Linked DNA regions of Homo sapiens: region 1 is linked to region 2. The links come from fine-mapping of genetic effects on plasma protein levels. A gene starts in region 2. The other region holds a variant in brackets. All regions are shown on one strand. Distances are from middle to middle.

Region 1 (2,500 bases), 14 kb after region 2:
AAATCTTTCTGGGATTTCGTTAGAATTGCACTGACTTTATAGATTAATTGGAATTTTCCAAGACCTTAGAGACTCAATGTATTGCCAGTGTCTTTTCTAAGCATAAAACATTGGTGAAAATGTCACATGATCAGTCCTGCCGTTAGGAAATTGTGGGAAGTGCTCATCAAATCCATCTCCTTCACTTTGCAAAGAACCAGGCAAGGTGGAGTTCTCTGCCCAAGGTTACTGGGTGGTGACTAAGTTGGGCTACAGTTTTAGGTCCCAGACTCTTAATGGCTGCATCCTCCCCTTTTAAGAGAGTCTGCTGGGTTGAACTCATTGACCTTCGGATCTGGCGAGCCACGCTACCGAGGCAGGCTGTCTCCACGGACACATTTCGGTGCTTGTGGGTTCTAGCCAAGATTGGAGAAGGCATTGCCCCCACTTTGTTCCTGGGATGGGGTCTTTCAACTGCTGTGAGATAAACAGTCATCCTGAGCCCCTGCTGCTCTGAAATCATTTCATGTTTTGCAAGGTGGGAGGGTGAGCCACATCAAGGCGCGTGTGCCAACCAGCGCCCCAGCTATCCTTGGGCATCAGTTAGAGGACACATCAGGTGGCCCGATCCTCCCTCGGAATGTGTTCATTGTTTTCAGAGCTCCGGAGCCGCTTCAAATTGTTTCCTACCGCGTCCGGCCCCAGGGGCAGGGCTCTTTTTCTGTCTCTGCTGTCACTTACATTCCTCTCCCAGCTCAGTTTCCATCACCTCTAATCATCCCTGGAGGACTCGTCCTTTGTTCCTGGATTAAGCCGGGCCACCTGTCACTCGCTCAAGCCAAGCTTCCCACGTGGCCAGGGACACTTCTGCGATCCCATCAGAGGGGAAAACTTGATGTGTTTCAAGAATGCCCTGGTGCCAAGCTTCTGCAGAGCAGCACGCAGAAAATGTGAAGACAAAAGAATGACTGCCCACAGGAGGCGCGGCACAGGGCAGAACTCTGCTCGGTTGCTTGTCCGTGTTTGGTAAGAGAAAAGGCTCCCGTTGCAGTTTCTTGCTGTTTCTTTTTGGTGGCAGCTTTCCTTAACCGAAAAGCACACCTAGCTGTTGATGTCCCCAGACTGCAGGCAGGAGGCTGGGGTGAGGGACTTCAGCTCTGAGTCTGTGCCAGCGAGGGCCCTAGGGCTTCTCTCATGACCTCTTTCCCAGGCCCCCGCTGGATCCTTCCAAAGGCACAGGCCTTGTCTTTCTGCTTCTCTGGGACTGCAGGCCTCAAGCCCCCGCGCCCTGGGCAGCAGGGCATGGTAGATGCGCGGCACCCCCCTTAGCGGCACCTTCCCATTGTGAGAGAACTGCCTGAAACCCGCCCCTGTTCATGCCTCTGATCTCCCATGGCCCACGCAGCCATGGGGGGAGGTGTCTTGTCAGAGGCCTTACTTAGCCCAGAGGCATCCCAGCGGCGGGGGCAATTTCAGTCCCAAGTCCAGTGCAGGGCTGCGCTGTATATTTTTAGGCGGATGAAACTCTGACCCTCACCGCATCCAAGTGACTGTCAGTTATCACCTACAAAACTACCG[G/A]GGGTGACGCCTGAGTGACAGTTGTTCATGAAGAACCCAAACGATGGTGAAATATGAGCAGTTACCTACATACCGAGGGCACGGAAAGACCAGTCCCAGGTGACGAGAACTCAGAGGGCCGGGCGATGCCCTCACGTCACTCACCCCACCCGTGAAGAGACTGAGTCCACAGAGGAATGCCTGACCCGCCCGCCCGCCTTTGGTTTTCCTGCGGCACATCCTCGGTACTGTTCTGACAGCCTTTCCAAAACCACATCTCACGTGTGTGCAGCTGCCCGGTGCCCTTCATGAGTTTCCAGGAGCAAGATCACATACAGACTAACTGCTGTGGTCTCCAGGGCTCCTGTGCACCTCTCGAATAGCTCACCATGACTCCAGCCTGCTGCATGCCGCGTGCGTGTGAGCACGCAACCTGTCCATGCTTACACACACGCCCACAGATGCCCACGCTCACACGCACCTGCCCACTTACACACACACGCCAACGCTCACACACATACGTGCCCGTGCTCACACACCCGCCCATGCTCACACACCCACACACACCTGCCCACGCTCACACCTGCCCCCACACACCTGCCCACACTCAGACACACTTACCCCCCACCCACACACCCGCCCATGCTCACACACCCACACATACCTGCCCATGCTCACACCTGCCCCCACACACCTGCCCACACTCAGACACACCTGCCCCCCACACACAGGCCCACGCTCACACACCTGCCCACTTACATGCCCACGCTCACACACACCTGCCCACTTACACGCCCACGCTCACACACACCTGCCCACTTACACACATGGCTACGCTCACACACACCTGCCTGTGCTCACACACCCGCCCATGCTCACACACCCACACACACCTGCCCACGCTCACCCCTGCCCACACACACCTGCCCACACTCAGACACACCTGCCCCCTCACCCACACACA
Region 2 (2,500 bases):
AGCAGTAGATTACTAAGCTCCTTAGTTATAGAACATTCAATGCATAGGAAAGTGTTTTTCCTACAAAGCATAACTGAAATGTAGTTTAACTAATGGTTTACAATTCAGTCAAATACCAAAGCTGCAAACCATTTAGGGAGTCATCAATTACATATTTTGTACACTTTCAAAAAGCTTACAGCTGGGATGGGTTGTTTATTTTCAAAGCATGACTGCTTTAAAATGATCATATTCTTTAGCCTGCCACCTAGGAAGCATTAAGCATTTACTTGCAGAATGAACAAACGAGCACGTTGTCTTGTGTTATGAAGTATATAATATAGTTCGTTTTAGTTTCTTCATTCGCAGACTATCAGGCTCATTTCACGTGACTGCTTGCACTTAGAACTGAGTTATCACGGAGTAGGAACTCTCCAACATCGTCGTCATAGACCAAGAGATGCCCATGAACAGCCATGAAAGTGCCAGTCAGGGAAGTATTCAGTGCTTTGTTGTAGAGTTGTTGGATAGAGGCACAGGATCATTTCATGTTGTTGAGGAGAAAGGAGCAACAGCCTCCTCCCACCTTATTAAAAATAGAGATTTAAAAAAACCTCTAATTTCCTCGAAGTACAGAATCTCAAGAGGTAGCTCTAAGGAGAATCCCTCTGGGTTTGAGCGCATTCCTCTTCCAGGGGGCCTATTCTTGGACTGCTTTCCTTAATAGAGAAATCTCTCTGAGCCAAAATCGGCCTCCCCCAATTCCATCCTGTCGGCCCCACTTTTCTGCTTCGGAGACTTCCAAGCCAGTCCCCACTCCTCCTTCAGCCAGTCGGGCCCGCACCCGCGCCCGGCAGGGCCAGCCCTCTCCTCCTCCTGCGTGGCGCAGCACAGGCCCTGAGCGCGCGACCCCAGGCCCTGGGCGCCCCGCCGCATGCTCGCGGCTGGAAGCCCCAGTTTGCGTGGCCCTTCGGGTTATTCCGCTCAAGAGCCGCCGCGTCGCCCCATCTCGGCGCGAATCTGAAAGCGCTTTCGGGGGAGAAGATGTTGGGGGCACTGGTGAGTACACTGCACAAGTGACAAAATGTTTTCAGCTCCTGGAGGCGAAAGGTGCAGAGTCGCTCTGTGTCCGTGAGGCCGGGCGGCGACCTCGCTCAGTCGGCTTCTCGGTCCGAGTCCCCGGGTACGAGGAAAGACCACAGGGGGCTTCTCGCGGAAAAGCGGGCCGCGGACCCTGCGCGGGCTGGCTGGGGCGGGCGGATGACGAGGCGCAGGGGCAAGGGTGGGTCTGCGAGGCGGCGGGTCCGGGCGTCTTAGGCTCCGGGGCTCCCTCGCTGGCGGCGGAGCAGGGATGGCGCGCCCGGGGGTGAGGGTGCGGCGGGTCACAAGCACTCGCAGCCCGCGGCGCAGCAACCCGGCAGGCACACGCACACGTGCACGCGCGCCCCGCACCCGCCCCCCGTGCGGCCCCCGGCTCGGGGCGGCGGCGGCGGCGGGGGCCGGGGGCGCGCGGGCCGGCGCCGGGCTGGGCCCCGGGGACCCCGCGGGCGGCGGGCAGGCGGGGAGGGCGCTCTGGGGCCCGCCCGCGCGGCTCCCATCCTCCGGGCCGGCCTCTGGCTCCGCGGGGCGAGGGGAGGCGCCCGCCGGCTCCGGGCGCCGCGGGCGGGACACGGGCGCGGGGCGCAGGCGGGCTCCTCCGGCGCGTGCGGACGCTGAGCGTGGCCTGTCCCTCAGGTCTGGATGCTGGTAGCCGGCTTCCTGCTGGCGCTGCCGCCGAGCTGGGCCGCGGGCGCCCCGAGGGCGGGCAGGCGCCCCGCGCGGCCGCGGGGCTGCGCGGACCGGCCGGAGGAGCTACTGGAGCAGCTGTACGGGCGCCTGGCGGCCGGCGTGCTCAGTGCCTTCCACCACACGCTGCAGCTGGGGCCGCGTGAGCAGGCGCGCAACGCGAGCTGCCCGGCAGGGGGCAGGCCCGCCGACCGCCGCTTCCGGCCGCCCACCAACCTGCGCAGCGTGTCGCCCTGGGCCTACAGGTGAGCCGCGGGCGCGTCCTGGCGGGGCCCGGCAGGTGGGGAGGGCAGGGCTGGGCGGGGAGAGTGGGTGGGGCCGGGCCGAGGCCGGGCAGGCGGGGAGGGTGGGGCGGGGAAGGGGAGGTGGTTGGGGCGGGGCGACGCGGAGGGGGCGTGGCACGCGGGGCGAGGCGGAGCAGGTAGGGGTGGGGTGGTGCGGGGCGAGACAGGGTAGGGTACGGTAGGGTGGGGTGGGGTGCGAGGGGCGCTGCGATGAGGCGGGGTGGGGCGGGGCAGTTGGAGCACTGGGGGGCAATTCCTAAACTGCGAAGGCCCACCCCCACCACCTCCCTTGAAGGAGTCCTGCTTCCTCTCTTTACCCTCCAGTATTTCCTATGCAACACGTATCTCTTGAACACCTCATCTCCTCCAGGTTGGATGGGTCCGCAAGGCACTAGCTGGGGACCCTTCCGTGATGTGGACACAGTGATGTGGACCGTACTCTGCACAGGGGG

Direction of the effects. Alleles are on the strand shown, and positions count from the first base shown. The strength of an association depends on the size of the effect and on how common the allele is.
For the plasma level of the protein whose gene starts at base 1,417 in region 2, allele A in region 1 goes with a higher level than allele G (moderate association).

What was found. A credible set is the group of variants that fine-mapping cannot tell apart. PIP is the chance, under the fine-mapping model, that this variant and not a neighbour inherited with it causes the effect. Protein levels are from antibody-based Olink assays in UK Biobank. Linkage for the fine-mapping came from a reference panel and not from the study's own genotypes, which makes the PIPs less certain.
Region 1: its variant is the best candidate, but not a certain one, in a credible set for the plasma level of the IL17D protein (UK Biobank, PIP 0.74).

The regions. Positions count from the first base shown.
Region 1 is chr13:20,716,365-20,718,864 of GRCh38, forward strand. All of the region lies in intron 1 of IL17D (interleukin 17D), which reads left to right. Among named protein-coding and RNA genes, the nearest start is that of IL17D, 14 kb to the left of the region's middle. RefSeq lists an enhancer at 361-1,075 and a silencer at 1,186-1,480. The variant G/A (reference allele first, on the strand shown) is at 1,558.
Region 2 is chr13:20,702,283-20,704,782 of GRCh38, forward strand. It overlaps IL17D (interleukin 17D), which reads left to right and starts at 1,417. Exons shown (of 2, transcript NM_001385224.1): 1 at 1,417-2,009. The coding sequence starts at 1,720. RefSeq lists silencers at 799-878, 1,299-1,438, 1,729-2,238.